Linked DNA regions of Homo sapiens. Changing the gene in region 1 together with any one later gene gives a genetic interaction. Each region holds a gene or a part of one and is shown on either strand. Other genes may lie near its edges. The genes, in order: SSB, MTOR, BNIP1, RPP38, CDCA8 and FAM98B.

The links.
Region 2: changes in SSB (region 1) and MTOR together harm fitness more than expected from each alone (negative genetic interaction), as found in Homo sapiens cells (one large-scale study listed by BioGRID).
Region 3: changes in SSB (region 1) and BNIP1 together harm fitness more than expected from each alone (negative genetic interaction), as found in Homo sapiens cells (one large-scale study listed by BioGRID).
Region 4: changes in SSB (region 1) and RPP38 together harm fitness more than expected from each alone (negative genetic interaction), as found in Homo sapiens cells (one large-scale study listed by BioGRID).
Region 5: changes in SSB (region 1) and CDCA8 together harm fitness more than expected from each alone (negative genetic interaction), as found in Homo sapiens cells (one large-scale study listed by BioGRID).
Region 6: changes in SSB (region 1) and FAM98B together harm fitness more than expected from each alone (negative genetic interaction), as found in Homo sapiens cells (one large-scale study listed by BioGRID).

Annotation. Positions count from the first base shown.
Region 1 is NC_000002.12:169,808,871-169,812,564, reverse strand, and holds the end of SSB (lupus La protein), read right to left. Parts: coding exon 3,663-3,694; intron 2,283-3,662; coding exon 2,142-2,282; intron 1,708-2,141; coding exon 1,521-1,707; intron 1,383-1,520; coding exon 1,242-1,382; intron 898-1,241; coding exon 809-897; 3' UTR 746-808; coding exon of another isoform or gene 707-745; 3' UTR 501-706; downstream 1-500. Other genes in the region: rRNA N(6)-adenosine-methyltransferase METTL5, read left to right, coding at 59-108, 707-745. UniProt on the Homo sapiens protein: Binds to the 3' poly(U) terminus of nascent RNA polymerase III transcripts, protecting them from exonuclease digestion and facilitating their folding and maturation.
Region 2 is NC_000001.11:11,231,552-11,235,051, forward strand, and holds part of MTOR (serine/threonine-protein kinase mTOR), read right to left. Parts: intron 2,715-3,500; coding exon 2,592-2,714; intron 1,937-2,591; coding exon 1,847-1,936; intron 1,763-1,846; exon of another isoform or gene 1,359-1,762; intron 978-1,358; coding exon 885-977; intron 1-884. UniProt on the Homo sapiens protein: Serine/threonine protein kinase which is a central regulator of cellular metabolism, growth and survival in response to hormones, growth factors, nutrients, energy and stress signals.
Region 3 is NC_000005.10:173,151,031-173,154,530, reverse strand, and holds part of BNIP1 (vesicle transport protein SEC20), read right to left. Parts: intron 2,966-3,500; coding exon of another isoform or gene 2,837-2,965; intron 210-2,836; coding exon 118-209; intron 1-117. UniProt on the Homo sapiens protein: As part of a SNARE complex may be involved in endoplasmic reticulum membranes fusion and be required for the maintenance of endoplasmic reticulum organization. Also plays a role in apoptosis.
Region 4 is NC_000010.11:15,100,355-15,102,555, forward strand, and holds part of RPP38 (ribonuclease P protein subunit p38), read left to right. Parts: intron 1-1,863; 5' UTR 1,864-1,982; intron 1,983-2,201. UniProt on the Homo sapiens protein: Component of ribonuclease P, a ribonucleoprotein complex that generates mature tRNA molecules by cleaving their 5'-ends. Also a component of the MRP ribonuclease complex, which cleaves pre-rRNA sequences.
Region 5 is NC_000001.11:37,695,516-37,699,015, reverse strand, and holds part of CDCA8 (borealin), read right to left. Parts: intron 3,107-3,500; coding exon 3,066-3,106; intron 112-3,065; coding exon 39-111; intron 1-38.
Region 6 is NC_000015.10:38,457,127-38,460,626, forward strand, and holds part of FAM98B (protein FAM98B), read left to right. Parts: intron 1-1,432; exon of another isoform or gene 1,433-2,614; intron 2,615-3,500. UniProt on the Homo sapiens protein: Positively stimulates PRMT1-induced protein arginine dimethylated arginine methylation.

The DNA.
Region 1 (3,694 bases):
CAAGGGTGGTAAACGCTTGGAAATACAATTTTATCCTTAGGTGGCTTTTGTTTTACAGAACTTCGATATGACCTGCCAGCATCATACAAGTTTCACAAAAAGAAATCAGTAAGTCTCTTGATTTTGGCTGGTCTACATTCGGTATTGAAAAGCTTTCTGGGCCGGATGTGGTGGTTCATGCCTGTAATCCCAGCTACTCGGGAGGCTGAGGCAAGAGAATCGCTTGAACTCAGGAGGCAGAGGTTGCAGTGAGCTGAGATTGCCCCACTGAACTCCAGCCTGCGCGATAAGAGTGAGACTCAGTCTCGAAAAAGAAAAAAAAAGGAAAGCTTTGTGACAAGTAATTATTTCTAGTGTTACCAACTTTCCTGTGTAAATATACAAAGCCAGCCTAGGAGACACCATAAATGGCCTGTGGGAAAGGCCCATCGTCAATAGCTAATATTCTAGTTCTTTCCTAAATGCTTTGGGTACAAAAAGAAAAAAAAAATCAAAAACTGTTTTTGCTCTTTTCATATAGTATATATTTTATTAGTTAGTTTGTACTAATACATTCTCATATTACAAAGGCAATTTAATGGAAGAATCTTCCTTTTGATATTTGAATCATCTGAAATAACACAAACAGAACAATACATTCAAAGAAATCTCATTTGCATAACAAAAAGACAAGTTAAACAACAAAAAAATTTTTCCTTTCTCACAGGTGGACATTGAAGTGGACCTAATTCGGTTTTCCTTTTAAAAGCCCCGCAAACAAAAGTCGTTTAAAACCTATTTAAAATGAATAAAAAATTGGTTTACTAAACTACTGGTCTCCAGCACCATTTTCTGTTTTCTGTTGTTTGGATGCAGGTTCTTCTTTGTCTGTTTCTTCTCTTGCTCTTTTCACAGGTCCTATAACGTAACAATTAATTTTTGTTAAATTCAACGTAAGTACTGCTCTAGTTTAATACTGAGCACAATTACTAATAATGATACTGTTGAAAAAGATGCAACAACTTCCTTGCACCAATGAGAAAAGGCTTTTCTCTTAGTACAGACCTGACCTCTAGATTCATCTTCCAAATATCCTGTCCCTGACTTATACAACAGCATAACCGAGGTAAATCGTTAATAATCCAAGAATGGCACTTATCCAGGAGTTGAAAAGCCAAATCCCTATTCTCTCTGGCAAATCATTTATTTATGGAAGTAGAAATTTTCTCATGAAACTACCAAAGGACTTAAAAAAAACTTACCAGTTGCACCATTTTCATCATGTTCATCATGTTCATCATCACTAGCAAATTTCGTTTTCTTGCCCTGAAACTGTACTTTTCCTTTACCAGACCCAGGCTGGGCAGCTTTATTACCCTTTCCTTTTCCTTTAAATCTACGACCTGTAGAGACACAATTGAGCACTCTGTAAAGAACTTTTTTTAAGTCTCTTGTCAATGTTTTTGAACACTGATTAAAGTTTTTGCTCAAGTAAATGGGTTCAACAACCAAACTGTTAAAGAAAAATCAGAATAAATGACCTTTTGACTTCCATTTGTTTAGGGATTCTTGTTGGTCTTCTATTATTTTCTTCAGTGCTTCTTTTTCCACCTCTCCTTCTAGTACTTCCCAAGTCACTTCTTTGTTCCTTAATTGTAGGTTACCATTATTTGCATCTTTGGCTTTACCCAATGCTTCCTTGGCTTTTTCTTTAAATAGAATTATCCCCTATACCAGAGACAGAAAACAAAAGCCATACCCTTGGTTTTTAGTCCCACAATTAATTTCTTTGTCCAAAGTAATTTTTTCTACCCTGCAAACCTTCCATGTCTTTACCAGTTTGAATGAATTTTACTGAACAGTAGAAAAGGAATGCTACAGAAGTAAAACTGCAATCATCAGTATGAACAGTTATTCATAGTATAATTCAGAAACTATCAGACATCACATATAGTGACAATAACAACAAAGTAAATGATCAAGTAGAAACTAATTTAGTATAATTCAGAAAATATCAGACATCACATCTAGTGGCAATAACAAATGATCAAGTAGAAACTAATTTAATAAACACAATTTTTAAAATTACTTTCTACTAATTTTGTCTAAGTTTCTACAGATTTTCAAACTGATTGCTAAAAAGGATAGGGATGTATCCAAACCTCTTTTGCTCCTCTGACGAAGTCTATCCATTTTATTTCACCATGATTTGAGAAAAGTATGTGTAAATCTTCTCTACAGGTCTGATCATCTAAATCACCCGAAAATTTCAGCAAGCATCCAATCTTTTCTTCTAGAGATTTCTATAAAAATATACAAAGTGATCAAAAAGTTTCTTAAAAGCAACAACAGACCAGAAATGACTCACACCACCTTATAGCTATACAAGAAAAAGACTAGAAACCAAAATGCTATTTTAAAGTAGTTTCTTCCGCCGGGGCAGCAAGAGCGAAACTCCATCTCAAAAAATAATAATAATAATAAATAAATAAAGTAGTTTCATAGTGTTGGTGTTTTCCTTTGTCATCCTTTATTCCAAAATGGCTTTCAATATTATTTGATCTCTTATACAACTGGTATTTAATTAGTTATAAACTACATAAATCTGGCTATTAAACTATCTTGGAAAATAATTCTAGGCAGTATTTATCATACTTTAAAAAATTTTTAGGCCGGGCGCAGTGGCTGACACCTGTAATCCCAGCACTTTGGGAGGCCGAGGCAGGCGGATCACCAGGTCAAGAGATCGAGAGCATCCTGGCTAACATGGTGAAACCCCGTCTCTGCTAAAAAAAAATACAAAAAATTAGCCGGACGTGGTGGCAGGCGCCTGTAGTCCCAGCTACTCGGGAGGCTGAGGCAGAAGAATGGCATGAATCTGGGAGGTGGAGCTTGCAGTGAGCCGAGATCGCGCCACTGCACTCCAGCCTGGGCAACAGTGAGACTCGGTCTCAAAAAAAGAAAAAAAAAAATTTTATAGTCATTATTTTCCCCAAATAAAAATTTTTACCTGTAACTTTCTAAATGGAAATACACATCAGTATCTTATTAAGTCAAAAATAAAAGTCATGTTAGTATTAACCTATGATTAGAATCTTTAGAAGTTATAGGACATTTTCTCATAAAAATAAGTTCTAGGCATAAATGAACTTTTTCTGAATATTTCAAAATATATTTTCCTGTGTTTTATTATATTTTTTATTTTTAAACAGGGTCTCACTCTGTCACCCAGGCTGGACTGCAGTGGCATGATCTTGGTTCACTGCAACCTCCGCCTCCTGGGTTCAAGTGATTCTCCTGCCTCAGCCTCCCACATAGCTGGGATTACAGGCATGCACCACCACGCCTGGCTAATTTTTGTATTTTTAGTCAAGATGGGGTTTCACCATATTGGCCAGGCTGGTCTCGAACTCCGTGCCTCAACTGATCTGCCCGCCTCGGCCTTCCAAAGTGCTGGGATTACAGGCGTGGGCCACTGCACCCGGCCTTTTCCATATTTTAGAACATATTTCCTATCCTTAGTTTTCTCTTTTCCCTCAATATAATACCTGATGTATTACTTAATGCAATAACAACTATAGATAGCTTTGCTTACGTATTTTCTTGAAAAAGTCCTCAGACTTAAAAGCTATTCATTTAACTTCGAATTACAGATGTACTAGATAGCAGTAATATATACTTACCATTTCAGCATCTTCTTCTAACTTTTGTTTTG
Region 2 (3,500 bases), on another chromosome or scaffold:
TCCAGTAAAGACACTAACCATGAGCAGAAATCCCAAAAGGGCATAAAACCAAGGTTGATCAAGCACACAACCCTGCAACAATCACTGGATCAAGAGACAAAGAAAATTCCCACCTTTCTCAAAGAAAACACATCATTCTTCCATATCCCAAATGATTAACAGGAGATTCAAAAGGAAATTAAGATTTTTTGTTGTTGTTGAGACAGGGTCTCACTGGAGACTGGAATGCAGTGGTGTGATAACAGTTCACTGCAGCCTTAATCTCCTGGAATCGAGTGATCTTCCCATCTTAGCCTCCAAGTAGCTGGGACTACAGGCACATGCCACCATGCCCAGCTATTTTTTTTTTTTAGTAGAGACAAAGTCTCATCATGCCCAGGTTGCTCTCGCTCTGGAGCTCAAGCAATCTTCCTGCCTCAGCCTCCCAAAGTGCTAGGATTACAAGTGTGAGCTGCCATGCCCAGAAATAAATTAAGACTGTTCTTAATTTTAGTCTAGTCATCTAATAGCCTCAAATTGGGAAAGCAGAACCAGGGCTGGGCAAGGATGAGCTAAACTTCTGTTCCTTCATAGGCAGTGGCCAAGGCTTTCTTTTTCCCTCTGAGAGCTACGGCTCTGACAATTGACCTGCATTTTCTTTTGTATAGACAAAATGGCACTAGTCAGCCCCGATAATTACTGAAACTGACTCTGGGTCAGGACAACAGGTAATTCTGGTTTCAAATCTTTCTAACTTTTACTCATTCAACAAATATTTTTGAGCACCTACTATGTGTCACACTCTGTTCTAGGCACTGGGTGAGGACACTAAGGTGAATAAAGAGAAGCAAAGTCCCTGGACTCATGGGGTCTGTCTTGCTCAATCAGGAAGCAGTAATACTCACCTGCCTTTTGGCCAACAAAGAGGAATCCTGGAGCATGTCCATGATGATAATAAAAAGTTCATCAACCCATTTCCTCATTTCCAGGCCACTAACCTGCAAAATGAAAAAGAGGGTGGCAGAAAGGGTTAGAAATTCTGGCATTAGAAAGTATTTTGGAGGCCGGGCACGGTGGCTCATGCCTGTAATCCCAGCACTTTGGGAGGCTGAGGAGGGCAGATCACCTGGCATCAGGAGCTCCAGACCAGCCTAGCCAACATGGTAAAACCCCATCTCTACTAAAAATACAAGAATTAGCCAGGTGTGGTGGCACACACCTGTAATCCCGGCTACTTGGGAGGGTGAGGCACGAGAATCACTTGAACCCAGGAGATGGAGGTTGCAGTGAGCCAAGATCACACCACTGCACTCCAGCCTGGACAAAGTGAAACTGTCTCAAAAACAAATAAATAAAATAAAAAATTTTTTTTAAAAAAGCCCTCTCTTCCTTTCTCCACCATCATGGTGTGTGCCTGACTCTGATTCTTGCCATTCTTCTCACAAGACTTTCAGAATTAAGCAATTCCTGGCCAAGAAACAAAAGTAAAATCGTCCCATTCCCCAGTGGATTCGGATGAAAACTGGTAATAAAACCAGGTACAACTCCAAAAAAAGACACTGGAGAAGAACCAAGCAGGGTCTATAAGGAATTGCACATGAGATGGCACACACATTTATGCTGTCTGAAGGTCACAATGATATTACCATATCAAGCTGAAAATGTCACCACTATCTGGAGAGTTGGACATGTTTTATTGAGAATATATTATTTCTCTCTGAATCTGTTATGAATGCATTGTTGGCTGGGTTCCGCAATAAATATGTGAGACCTTTCATTTAAAAAAAAAAATAGTATTTTGACTTCCTTAGAGGTTAGTTTCTTTTCCACCCTATCTCCGCTATGGAAAAAGTAGCTGCCCCTTTACCTGTGCCAATTCTCCTATTGTTGCCAGGACATTATTGATCACACCTGGGTTTGGATCAGGGTCTGGATCTTTCAGTTTCAAAATTAATGCCTAGAGAAAGAAGTTATGAGAAAATGAATGCAGATTAGACTCTACTAGAAACCTTTCTTTTATATAAGTAAAATTCACCCAAGAGACCATCTCAGTCATAAAGAAATTCCTTCTAGGCTTTATGAATCCAAGATTTCTCTGGAATGTAAATTCTCAAACTTTTCTCCATATGAAGTCTAAGTCTGACATGTGAGAGAGCTGGGAAGCACCATAATGTGAAAGTATTTCTCATGTCTCCTCTAAACCGAGTCTCAGTGATTGTTCATCCAGATTAACATACATTATAAAGGACTTCACGTGACTCTAATGTGTTGAGATTTGAAGGTTGTTTCAGATTTTCAAGCTCATTTTTTCCTCATTTTGGGCGAGCTATTTTATGCTACTATCTACCTACTTCTCCTTTCCAAACATCTGCGATGATGTGCCTGAAGCATTAACTCTTACCTCTTGTAAGGACAGCACTTTCCTGCAACTGATAAGATTCTTGGTATTCTTTAACTGAAAGTGCTTGATATGGCCCTTTGGTCTCCAAGCGTGAGAGCAAAGAAATCACCTACTTTGTTCAGTGTACTAGTGAACACTGAAACACTCCCATCTCCCCATATGAGCTGATGACAACGCACAGAGAAAGCACCAGCCTCTCGGTTTGTGTTACCTTCAGAATAGGCTCCATGTAGGGGCGGATGAGTCGGGGGGCATTGGAGACCAGGTGCCCCAGCATGCGGGCACTCTGCTCTTTGATTCTTCCAATCCCACTGTGCTCCAACTCTGTCAAAATCTGTAGGGAAGAAAGGCTCATATGTTCTCTATGGCAGAAGACATTCTAGAGAGAGACTGTGTCCAACAGAAAAAGTGGCAGGGAACTGGGGGAAAAACCCAGACCTCCACGACAGATGAAGTAGCTGCTAGATACTCAATGAGCAACAGACTTTTCTGCAACAGGCAGAACAGCCTTAGATACAGCTGTGACAGGAAGAAAAACTATTCGAAAACCTGCTCCCTTTCCTTTTATCACAGCACTCCAATGTCCCATGGCCCTCTCTAAAGCAGAGCTTTTAACCATGTAGCACAGCCAGAGAAGACTGAGAAAACCAACAGGGAGAGCTGTGAGTAGGGTTCTATAAAAATGAGGAAAGAAGGTAGGGCCCCTTGGGAGAAAAATCTTTGTCCAGACAGCAAATTACTGAAGACTACAAATAATGGCAAAGGAATCAAAGAACAGTTAGAACAGCTATGATGCCAAGAGAAGTGCTGATACTCTGTAGCTGTTTGGGGCATATCTAGATAAACCTCAATAGGTGGGGATCACACTGGCAGGATCCCCCGAAGCCTTACTGACTGGAGATAACACATTGGTTCTAGCTGACATCCTTAGGACACCAGCAAATCAGCATATCTTGCTCATGGTGACATAGACAGCATAATATAGACAGATTTCTGGATAAAGCTGCCAGAAGGAAATCGATGAGCAGTGACAAAAGCAGATGTCACAGAGCTCAGGTTAACTCAGCTACCCAGAGGAGTCTACAATTTAACATTACATTTTGTCTTAGGTTACTGACTT
Region 3 (3,500 bases), on another chromosome or scaffold:
AAAAAAGACACCATTAAGTCAGCATTAAAGCAGATCCATCAGGCAAACACACGTGCAAGGCTCACAGGCAACAAGAAGAGCCAGCAGAAGCCGCTGGCGGGGGCAGGCCCTGCCTACCTGAGCATCTGCTTTTTGTGATTCTCCACTTCCTGGAGTAGAAGTTGTTTCTCTGATTCTTTGTCTTGCTCTTTAGCCAACTGCTCCAGGTCCTTTGAGGAAAAATAATTCCATGTTAAAATGATTTCAAAAGTCAACATGAAAGCAGAAGAGCATTTCTATTTCTGCCAAGGGCATACAATAGCACTTGAAGCACCCTTTTAAAACAGAACACCTAGGAATGCTAGGTAACATATAACACACATCCTTTTAAATCTATAGCTAAGTCCACAAGGAAGTAAGGAAAACCCCTATGGCCCAAAAGTGGGAAGGGAACAAGAGCTGGAATAGTCAGCCTGGGAGTGATGCACGGCTGTCCTGGCGTCAGAGCTGCTGCTCCTGTCACCTAGGGCAGGCCCGAAAGGAAAAGAAAAACAATGACGAAATACAAGCACACTGATCCCCCACTTAGATATCATTAAAATATCAAACTGCTGTTCATTTCCAGATACTCACAATTTCTGTGCCTATTTAATTAAAGACGAGTAATAGGCAGTTTGAGCGCTTGAAGGTTTGAGAGCTCGTGCAGGGACAGAAAAATGAAGCCCTGAGCCATCTGAGGCTGAGGTTGAGAAGCTGAACTGAGATCACCACAAATCTAAAACCCACGAAAGGTTACAGACACAGGAAAATGGTATAAAAAAATGTCCATCTACCAGCACAGAGGGAAAACATAGATGCTTGCCTTTTTTTGCTATGAGTTCCAAATAGAGGGGTTAAAAAAAAACTCCCCTGAGAATTTATAACCAACCAGGGAGCTGCTCCTTCCACTGATCTAGGGTTCAATTTATCTTCCCTGAGTGGTTCGTGAAACTCCATGAAGAGAAATGAACATAAACAGTGTTCTCGGCCGGGCGCAGTGGCTCACGCCTGTAATCCCAGCACTTTGGGAGGCCGAGGCGGGGAGATCACGAGGTCAGGAGATCGAGACCATCCTGGCTAACATGGTGAAACCCCATCTCAACTGAAAATACAAAAAATTAGCCGGGCGTGGTGGCGGGCACCTGTAGTCCCAGCTACTCAGGAGGCTGAGGCAGGAGAATGGCGTGAACCCGGGAGGCAGAGCTTGCAGCAAGCCAAGACTGCGCCACTGCACTCCAGCCTGGGCGACAGAGAGAGACTGTCTCAAAAAAAAAAAAAATGTTGTCAGACTTGTGATCATCTCAGGAGACCTGGCGGGAAGCTAATGCAAAAACCTCTGTAGAGACTTGGCCTCGACCCAGCTGCACAAAGTCCCTCAGATAAGGTCTGCTAAGATGAGCGCTCACAGTCCAAAATAACCTAACACCAAGGAAATAACCCACTATAAGTTAGGGTCAGCAGACATACCCAGAAGTATTAAACCCCAAGAACTTCAGATAAAAGAACCATCAAGAGGGACTATAATTAAAGATAGCATTATACCAATCACATTTTTTGGTTTACAAATTAAAACAGGTTCTAGCTTCAATCACGCTATTGATCTGAAACATCAATGTATTTGCTCATTTATATACTAATTTACTGATTTACGTATCAATTTGCACATACTGGTTTGGAACAAGTTTGTGTATCCACCATTTCAATAGCACAGAGATGACTTTCAATTTATGCCTCCAAATATTGCTGAGGTAGAGAATAAAAGAAATAATCAACTGTGAATTAGAAAAGTTTTGCAAATGTCATCAATTATTTTCATAATTATTTGTTTAAAATCTGTATTCCCTATTAGAATGTAAATTCTATGGGCTGGGCCTGGTGGTTCACGCCTATAATTCCAGCACCTTGGGAGGCCAGGGCAGGCAGATTACGAGGTCAGGAGATCAAGACCATCCTGGCTAACACGGTGAAACCCCGTCTCCACTAAAAATACAAAAAATTAGCCAGGCGTGGTGGCGGGCGCCTGTAATCCCAGGTACTCGGGAGGCTGAGGCAGGAGAATGGCGTGAACCCGGGAAGTGGAGATTGCAGTGAGCCGAGATCGTGCCACTGCACTCCAGCCTGGGCAACAGAGTGAGACTCCGTCTCAAAAAAAAAAAAAAGAATGTAAATTCTATGAATAAGCAGAGCTGTATCTCACATTATTCACTACATATATTCCTTGTGCCTGGCACATACTGGGCACTGAGTCACTGAATGGAAGAATGAACGCATGGGAAAAGCGGAGGGATTAAAAAGGGGGAGAAATGTACAATTTACTCATGAAAGATTGCCTGGAAGTTCTTTCAAAGAGAACCAGTGATAGTTCTGGAGAAAGGAATGGCGGGGGAGAGCAGTCCTCAAATTCCAGTTTGAGAGCTATATGTACAAAGACAAACACACAGATATTTATACACAGTCAGTGCCCAAGATTCACCATGTGCAGAACACCCAGTTTTGAGGATATGAGGCCAGTTCTCTAGTATCACATGATCTTGTTGGAAATACACAAAAAAGACATTCAAATAAAAGCTAAAAATGGCAAACAAACAGGAATCTTGTATTTATTTCCAGATACAAAAAGAGTATGTAAATACTTAAGAAACGCAGATTAAAACTGGGATGGGGTTATTCATTTACTGGCCATGTGCTTATTAGGTCCTTCCTAGGTGCCATAATAAATATGTAAATGTACACGTATTGGTGAGGTCATTTTAATGAGTGAAGGAAATAAACACTGGGTGGGCACCCAGATGTTTAAAAAGAACATACAAATACTCACACTGAAGGTAACAGGTGTAGTTGGAGAGTTGAAGTCATGCTGAGTTGAAGAAAAGTCTGTCAGGGAATAAGTTAGCTTAAAAAAAAATGTGGAAGCAGTCCAAATAAATGCCCTTTGATAGAGAACTGGCTAAAAAAAAAAAAAAAAATGACAGTTATTTAGAAAAGAATGAGAGACCAGGTGTGGTGGCTCCTGCCTGTAATCCCAACACTTTGGAAGGCTGAGGCAGGCAATCACTTGAGTCCAGGAGTTCAAGTCCAGCCTGAGCAACATGGCAAAACCCTGTCTCTATAAAAACTACAAAAATTTGCTGGGTGTGGTGGCGCACGCCTGTAGTCCCAACTATTTGGGGGACTGAGGCAGGAGGAAAATCGCTTGAGCCTGGGAAATCAAGGCTGTGGTGAGCTGAGATTGTGCCACTGCACTCTGGCCTGGGTGACAGCCCAAGACCCTGTCTCAAAAAAAGAAAAAAAAAGAAAAATGAGGACAGTCTCTGATTACTGAAATGGAAAAATTTCCAATATACGTATAATAAAATTATACTTAACAGTATAAGTTTTGACCGGGCGCGGTGGCTCACGCCTGTAATCCCAGCACTTTGGGAGGCTGAGGCAGGCTGATCACAAAGTCAGGAGATCGAGACCAGCCTGGCTAACACGGTGAA
Region 4 (2,201 bases), on another chromosome or scaffold:
TGCATTGCATCTGGATGAGCCACTTTTCTTCCTGATTTCCTGAGCTCTAGGGGAGCATAGAGATAATGGGGTCAGGGGACACAGTGTGGCCACCGTGAAGGAAGCAGCTTAGGCCCCAGAAGTCTCCAGGATTGCTGTACCGAGATGACCAGGGTGTGATCTCTCACCCTAAGGAGCTGAATTTGGCTTTTCTGTGGGAAAGTGTCTGGGAAGAATATCAGAGACCAATAGCGCTCAGGGGGCCCTTTCTCGGGGCTGTCCAGTGTGGAAACACCCTGTCCTACACCAGTGGTTCCTGATTCCGGCTCTGAATCAGATTCACGAGGGCAACTTTTTTTTTTTTTTTGATATGGAGTCTTGCTGTCGCCCAGGCTAGAATGCAGTGGCGCGATCTTGACTCACTACAACCTCCGTCTCCTGGATTCAAGAGATTCTCCTGCCTCAGCCTCCAAGTAGCTGGGATTACAGGCAGGCACCACCATGCCTGGCTAATTTTTTTGTATTTTTTAGTAGAGACGGGATTTCGCCATATTGGCCAGGCTGGTCTCGAACTCCTGACCTTATGATCCGCCCGCCTTGGGCTCCCAATGTGCTTTGGTTACTGGCGTGAGCCACTGCACCCGGCCTGGGGCAGCTTTTTATAAGCACAGATGCCCAGGCCTTATTATTGAAGATTCCAATTCAGTAGATCTGGGTTGAGGACCAAGCATCTGCATGTTTTAAGAAGCCACAGGTTATTTTTGAGGTGTAGCAAGGATTGAAAGAACAGAAAACTTGGATTTGGAAAACTAGTTGTGACTTTAGGCAGTGAGTCAGTTTCCTAATGCACACATTGGGGGATTCTATAGGAATGCTGTAAGAAGCAAATAATACATGGAGAGAGTGCTTTATACAGCGATACACTGCACAGACACACTTGCCTTCAACATCAGCTGCCAGCCTAGTAAGTGGTAGTATAAATGCAAAGGATATAACTTCCTTTAGTTTTGCCAGGTGGGTCCCTGTGATTCTAGCTGAGCCCCAGGAAGGAAGGGAAGAAAACTGAGGGAAGAGAAGGGAGTGTGTAGTTGCCTCTGGGAAGGATAAAAGGATATGCCCTCTGGACCAATAGTTTATAACATTTTCCCCATTAAGCATCCTTCTACTCATTTTTCCTCAATGGATTAGTATCTTTAAATTTCATTACATTTCCCTAGTCTTCATGGAATTGCCAGCCAGAGAAGTCAGCTCGGGGTCCCCCTAAAAAGGAGGACTGGCCGGGAGTGGTGGCTCGTTCCTGTAATCCCAGCACTCTGGGAAGCTGAGGTGGGTGAATCACCTGAGGTCAGGAGTTCGAGACCCGCCTGGCCAACATGGTGAACCCCATCTCTACTAAAAATACAAAAATTAGCCAGGCGTGGTGTTGGGCACCTATAATCCCAGCTACTCCGGAGGCTGTGGCAGGAGAATCGCTTGAATCTGGGAGGCAGAGGTTGCAATAAGCTGAGATCATGCCATTGCACTCCAGCCTAGGCAACAAGAGCAAAACTCCGTCTCAAAAAACAAAAAAAAGGGAGTGTATGCCTGCATATGTATCAAATGCTGTAGGAAGGATATTCAAGAAATTTAGGGCCCTGGGAGGTGGGGAGACTTACAAAAGTGGACGTGACAGTGTTATTTGAAGTTTTAATCATGAGATGACTGTTCAGTTCTTTAAAATATCACACCTGATTGGTTGTGAATGGCAGAGGCCACCAGAGTATTTGCAGATTGGGAGCTCTACGTGGGTGGACATCGGGTCTTGCTTACTGTGAGCCCCAGGACCTAGAACACCACTTGCATACTGGAGGTGCTCAGATCATTTTTTTTTTTTTTTTTTTGCAGACAGGGTCAGATGTGTTACTGGGCTGGAGTGTGGTGGCACAATCACGCTCACTGCATCCTTGACCTCCTGGGCTCAAGTGATCTTCCCACCTCAGCCTCCCAAGTAGCTGGGACTACAGGTACGCCTCACACTTAGCTAATTTATGTATTTTTTGTAGAGGGTTTCTCCATTTGCTCAGAGTGGTCTCGAACTCATGGGCTGAAGTGATCTGTCCACCACAGCCTCCCGAAATTCTGAGACTGAAGGCATGAGCCAGTGTGCCAGGCCTAGAATATTTGTTGAGTGAATGCATGGAAGCCCAACTAGATAGCATTTTGGAAAACAGTAACAAGTTAGA
Region 5 (3,500 bases), on another chromosome or scaffold:
TTCTTTCTGTACAACAAGGAGTTTTGAAAGGTACTCACTTTTGGCAGATTTCAGGGGTGTCTGAATAGCTTCTGCTGTTAGTTTGTTTATTTCGGTGATATCCAGGTCAGCCTATGACAAACATAGCCAGAAAGCACCAGGCTTATTCCACCAAAATATGAGGAACAATATTTCAAGATAAAAACTTTTTTAAAACTATTATTTAATACATAAGACTGTTAAATGTTAGTGATACAATATACAATATAGCAAACTCCCATAAACCCACCACACAGCCCAAGACCTAAAACATTGCCAATAACTTGCTTCTGGCTCTGTATTCATTCCTTGTTCCATTTTCTTATCTCTTCTTCCAAAGGTGATGAGTCTCCTAATCCTTCATTCCCCAGGGGTAACCATATCATTGCACTTGCTTTATCGAAAGGTACATGTGTATGTGCTCACAGATACATGCATATGTGTGTATACATGTGTGCACACACAGATGTGCTTTTTCACAAGTGTGTACTTAAGCATTTTGTTTGGTTTTGGCTGTTTTCACCACTCTTTGTGGTTGTAGTTAATTTGTTTTCATTGCTATATCATATCCCACTGTGTGAATATACCACAATGGATTTGTCCATCTTCCATCAATAGTTTCCTGCTATTATAAACACTGCTACCTTGAACTGTCTTACATGTGTCTGAGGTACATGTCCAAGTTTCCCCTTGGCTCTATCCTTTGGATAGGACATGACAGGGATTATAGGTTACATAAATATTCAGCCTTCGCATTATGCCAAATTGTTTCCCAAAGTGGTTACCCTTGACTACAGCCCATCTGCAAACAATACAAGTTCCTAATGATCTACATCCTCTACAACACTTGGTGGTGTGTCAAGCTTACCATTTTTTCGATAAATCTACAGGGTCTCAATAAGGTTTTCTATGATGATCCTGGGTCCTTCAAAAAGGCTTCCAGTCACCATTCAAATTCGTTTTTTTTTCATATGGTAATAAGTATGGGCACTACAAAGAGCAGTCATGATTCACAGTCCTTTCCTTATAGAACACATGTAAACATCAGAATAATTACTACAGGTTTGGAATGGCACAGGTTTCATTTCTGGTAGGGACTGCTTGACATACTCAGAGAAGGATTCTGAGGCTGTCTTAGGCTTAGCAAGAAATAGGGCTGTAATAAGTTACTGATGTTTGCCAGGCTTGATGCAACAGAAAGTAGGGGCATTCCTGCCAACCTTCTGCCATCTCTAGAAACAACTGGCATTTTATGGAGTCATCAGTGGTGGCAGGCCACTGGGCATCTACTGTGCAGGACAGTTAACAGAGCAGGCCTGAGACTGATACACATAGAAAGGCCTGTTTGCAAGCCTGGCCTCGGTTGGCATCTGGGAACTTGATTTCAGAAAGATTCCCACCTTTCCTTAACAAGATGCCTCACTGTGCCTAAACTTTATGCAAACAATATGGCTCATGCTGAACACCTACTTCCCTCCTGAAAGTCTAGGATTTTGACATGTGCTAGGCAGAGGATGCCTATGTGAGCAGCCCCCAGTTAAAACTCTGGGCATTGACTCTCTAATCAGATTTTCTGGTAGACAGCATTTCATATGTGTTGAATTAAGCATGTTCTGTTTGACTCTACAGGGAGTGGACTCCTAGAAGCCTGGTTTCCTCTGGACTTTGTCCTATGCAATTTTCTCCTTTGTTGATTAATGCTTTGTATACTTTCACTGTAATAAATCATCGCCATGGGTGTGACTGTATGCTGAGCCCCATGAATCCTCCTAGTGAATCACCAAACCTGGAGGTGGTCTTGGGAGCCCCAACACACTTCCCAACTAAGAGCTTTTATAGATTTTCTATCGTTCCTTTCTGGAGTTTTAAATCATATTAGTCAAGGCTAGAATTCTCTCAACTTGGTGTGGTAACAATGGCTCTCTCATATTACATTAGAAGTTCTCATTTGCAGTTCTGTATTTCTAATTTAAAAAGAGAGAACTGCATTAGCTAGTAAGCATAATTCATCTCAGAGGTAACTCTTTTAAAACATTGGAGCTCAGTGTATGTAGGGGGGTGAATAATCCCCACCTCTCTCCCAAATGCTCCAATTTTTTCCAAATTGATAATTGGCTCCTCATTACCTTTACCTTCTGAATGAAGCTGGCGGAGATCTGCTATGTGCCCTTGGTGGTCAGACTCCTTCAAACCCTGATATTCCAAATGATTCTGATCAACTCAACAAAAGATGTAATTTTGGGGTTTACTTTGTAAATCTGATCAAGGCTACAATAAACTAACAGAAAGATACACAAATGCGTGCATACACACGCATTGTTTGTATATTATTTTAGAGTGCCTAGGGACTCTGTGAAGCCCATGTATGGACTAGTTCCCAATGCTGTCTCATAAAACTTTCTGCAAGAGTAGCAATGTTCTATTTCTGTGCTCTCTGATGGAGTAGCTACTAGTCATATGTAGGTATTGAACATGTAAAATGTGGCTAGTATGTCTGAGGAAATGAATTCTTTAATTTTATTAATTGTAATTAACTGAAATAGCTACATATGCCCAGTGGCTACTACACTGGACAGTGCAGCTTTAAATGCTCTATTTTGCATCCCCATCTTACTGCCTTCAATCCTGGCACTGATGCTGGGAGGAAGGAGATGAGAGGGGTTGGGGAATACTGAGCATCCCAAGCAAAAGCACTGCTTCTACAGTACGACATGATGAAACACCTTTATCATCTAGCAGGCCAATGCATAGTGTAATGACTCAGGCGCTTAAAGGAACTTGGGCTTGAGGCTTTCTACTTCCGCTGTAGAGTTCAGAACAAAGGACTGCAAGAAATTGGTCAAAAACAGAACTGCCACCTTCTGTAGGGCTCAGAACTATCTGGGTCTCATGTATACAGTGTCTGGTCCAACTCTAATTTTTCAGTTGACACAAACAGATGATGTCCCTTTATGAAACCTCTTCCACAGTAAGCATCTATTAGTTGGATCTGGGGACTGGACTAGACTTAAGTAACCACTGGCTGGAAAATAGGAAAGGTCACTTACTGTTGCCGCCTCTTCCAGGGCCTGTTTGTTTCCTCCAAGGGCTTTAAAAAGAACGTTGTAGTTACTATTACATTTTAACAATAAATCATCTTGCCTAATAGTACCATTTATCTTTCTAAAACTGGTCCAGCCCTTGGTCTAACCTTCAAGGACCTTCACCATCTAATCTATTCTTTCTCCAAGTTATATCCCAAATGTGCCACTGACTCTCATGACTTGTTGCCATGGTACTTTGTATTTCCTCTGCCTGAAATTCACCTCCGTACTTAACAAATTTCTAACTCATCCTTCAAAACTCAGCTCAAACATCACCCCAAAAATTCTGCTTATTTTTCTTTTTAAAAAATATATTTTAAATTTTATTTATTTTTGAGACAGAGTCTTGCTCTGTCACCCAAGCTGGAGTGGAGTGGCGCCTCCTTGGCTGTCTCCTGG
Region 6 (3,500 bases), on another chromosome or scaffold:
ACATTACTGAACTTAGTGATTGATTGGATATTAAAATTCAAGGATTCATTTCTCTTTATTTTAAAAAATTTTTTAGATACAGGGTCTTGTTATGATACCCGGGCTAGTCTTGAACTCCTGGCCTCAAATGATCTCCTGCCTTGGCTTCTCAAAGTGTTGGGATTACAGGTGTGAGCCACCACGCCCCAACAGATTAATTTCTTCAGTTGGTATTTATTGAGCACCAAAATGAAATGATACACCTTAGAATCTAAATTGGATACAGAAGAATGTGAAGATAGGAGAGAGTTGGTAAATATGGAGAATGCAGAGGAATCAATGAATGGAGGTAATGATGATATCAAAGAATAGTTATAGGTGAGTGGTCGAAGAAGCAAGTGGAAGGATAAATAAGAGGTTGTGGTCAGGGAGCCACATGTTTGGATAAGTGATTTTGGAGGTGCAGTGGTTGTAAGTAATGGCAAGGGTGCAAGGGGGGCTGAGTGACATGTGCAGGTTGGAATTGAGAGCTCAGGGTGTGAGATAGGGTATACATACAGACATTAAAGAAACTCAGTGTAATGGCAAGAATAGAGGTGGAGAGGAAAACTGAGCAAAGGGGATGTTGGGGAGTGTCCAAGAGGTAATAGATGAAAACCACAAGTGAATGGGTGGCAAATCTGAGTGGCCTGTGCCTCAAGGAAATAGGAGATATTTATAAGATAATGGGAGAGCAGTGATAATGATGCTATTTTGGTAAGAAAGGAGGCCAAAACTCCTACTATCTGACCTTAAGGCATTTGTGAAAATAAAAATAATTAAAGCTAGAGATGGTAGGAATAACAATCTTACTTTTTTTTTTTTTTTTTAAGAAAGAGAATTTTCAGAGTCAAAAGAACAGAAATCAGTAATCTGTTCTCTTCCAGGGTGGGGAGAAAACCTCCTTCCCCATAGGTTCGAGACTATGGCTAGATGGTGAAGAAGGGAGCTCAGTACCCAACCTTGGGGAGACACAGAAAGGGCCCATGCCAGGCACTTAGCTAGAGGCAAGCGTAGCTTTTGGGCCACAAGACCTGATGGCCACTGGGGTACTGGCCTGGAAACAAGTCCTCATCTTCCCAGAAATGTCTTATTTTTGTCTGCAGCAGCTGGCTGGAGAAAGATTTTGGAAAGGTGTGTACCTGGAGCACCCAAAGGCATACCCTTCCTTTTTCCTTGGCATAGGCTTTATAACACTGAGGAAAGGTCATGGTTTGGCAATGGAGTCTTCAATAGTCTTCATCCCTGTAGAGTTCAGTGGCTTTTAGGGTGACAGGAGAGGAGACGACTTGAAAGACCAAGAGTCTTTCAGCTTCTCCCCCACTGAAACGCTATATGCTGGGGCCACAGTTCATGGCAGAACACACACTCACACACACATCTCGGGAACCCAACAACTCGGGAGCAGGTAGTTCTGGGTATTGTTGGTCTGGCATTTGCCTACTTGGCATCTAAGCTGTCCTAAAGCTCCTTACAATCACTTCTCACTATTTCCAGGCCCATGTGGTGAGGCCCTCCAGCTTTCACTCTGTCCGTCAGGTGATCCTAAAGGCACAGCATAGGAAAGACCCTTACTGGGATGACCACTGCTTGGAAGCAGGGAAGGCTAAGAGGCCTGCCCCTACCCAAGGCTGGTATAGATGTCCTCTGCTCTGCTTCTCAAAGACTGGGAACAGGTTCAGCAACTCAGTATCTGCCATGTCATCAAACCAGGACTGCACAGGCACTGCATTCTCTGGGTGGAAGATGTAAGAAGCAGACAAGTTGTCCAGGATGAGGGTTTTCCTCAGGTTCCTCCCCAGGCGGCTGAGGTTCCTGACTTAGCAGCCCTGGTGGAACCACAGGACTCATGGAATAGGTGAGCCCGGAACACCCCACACCGGCCAGCAGATCCGTCACAGGGTTGGCATACTTGGCCAGGTTGGCAGTGAAGGGAACACATTCAAAGAGTTCTCTCATTCGTCTCTTTCCACGTGAGCTCTTTTGAGGACAGAAACCTGCTTGAGTGGTCTCCTCAATCTCTGTAGGCACTGTGAAGCTAGCATTGTTGCTGGGCTTAAAGATGCACAAGGGCTTCATCCAGGTCAGTGACCACACAGATCCTCCTTTGATCTTCCTCTGTCACCTTGGGGCAGACACGTCCCTGGGATCCGATAAAACTGGTACTGGAGACACTGGAGCAGATCCGACTTAGCAGTGGTGTTGGCTTCCTCCTTATATGGATGAGCTCAGTGGAAGAGCTTGACTGGCCATGCTGGATGCGAAAATAGCAGACAAGGGCCTTGAAGATGTTATATCCACGAGGCTTCTTAAGGAGGGCTTGGAGACCAGGCCTTGCTTGGTGAGCACCAGGGCATCTTCCCCTGTGCCTGGGTGATGATGGAACTGTGCTCCATCTAATTCCACAGGTGCGGGCTGGTTGGGTGGAAGAACCAGTGAGCCCATGGTCTGGGCTGGGCTGGGGGGCCTGGGTTTGGGCTTGCTGCAACTCCTGAGACTCCCGACTCCCACAGCTGTTTACATACCCCCTCTCCTTTCCTCCCTGGGCTGCGAAGCGAGGTGGCCTGTACCAAGGGTGGGCGCCCGGAGATGGGCTCCCTTGGGTACCCTGGCTCCAGTCTCCTAGCAGCAGCTCTGGGCTTCTCAGTTTGGGTCCAAAATGGAGAATCCAGAGTGAAAACAAGAGAGGAATAATCTTTCTGAGAAGAAATGGACAGTATAGCAAAATATCCACTGTGTTGTAGATGAAAGATAGTGGACATTTTTAGGAAGCAGAGAGAGGTAGAGAGTTGGATGAGGGGCAAAGACAATAGGTTGGGTAAATGATGGGAAAAGAAAGGGTCTTCTGTTTTATCTCTTGGCTGATGAAAATAGAAAGTAAATTAGGCCCTGGTTGTATTGTTGAGGAGAGTTGCCAGCAGCCCTAATGGACTGAAGATTTGGATCACCCAGCTTGAAGTAGTGTCTGACCAGCAACTATGCTTCCAGGGTATGAGGCTTTGAGGGAGGGCCTAGGCCTAGGGGAGATGTTCCCAGTGTTTGGAATAACAGTAGCACTTTGATGAATAACTAAGAATATATAGAACAAACTAGGAGCATGGTTATTCTCTGTAAACGCAGAATGGCATTGGAAATCAAAGCCAGTATGAAATAAATGTGGTAAACACTAAACAGTTGCTAAATGTAGCATAAATAGACTCTTAAATGCCTGCTGTAATTTCTCATGTACTGCAAGAGGAGAAGGAGTGATGATAAATATTGAGAGTTTTTTTTTTTAAATGAAAGTAAAAAAATAAGTACTATGCTGCTTAAGAGAGGTCTGTGGACTAGCAGCGTCATCATCACCTGGGGAGTAGAAATGCAGAATCCCAGACATCATTCCAGCTCTACTGAATTAGAATCTTTATTTTAACAAGACCCTCAGGAGATTCATATGCACATAAAAGTTTAAGAAGTACTGTTCTAGCCAGAAAAGTGCTTTC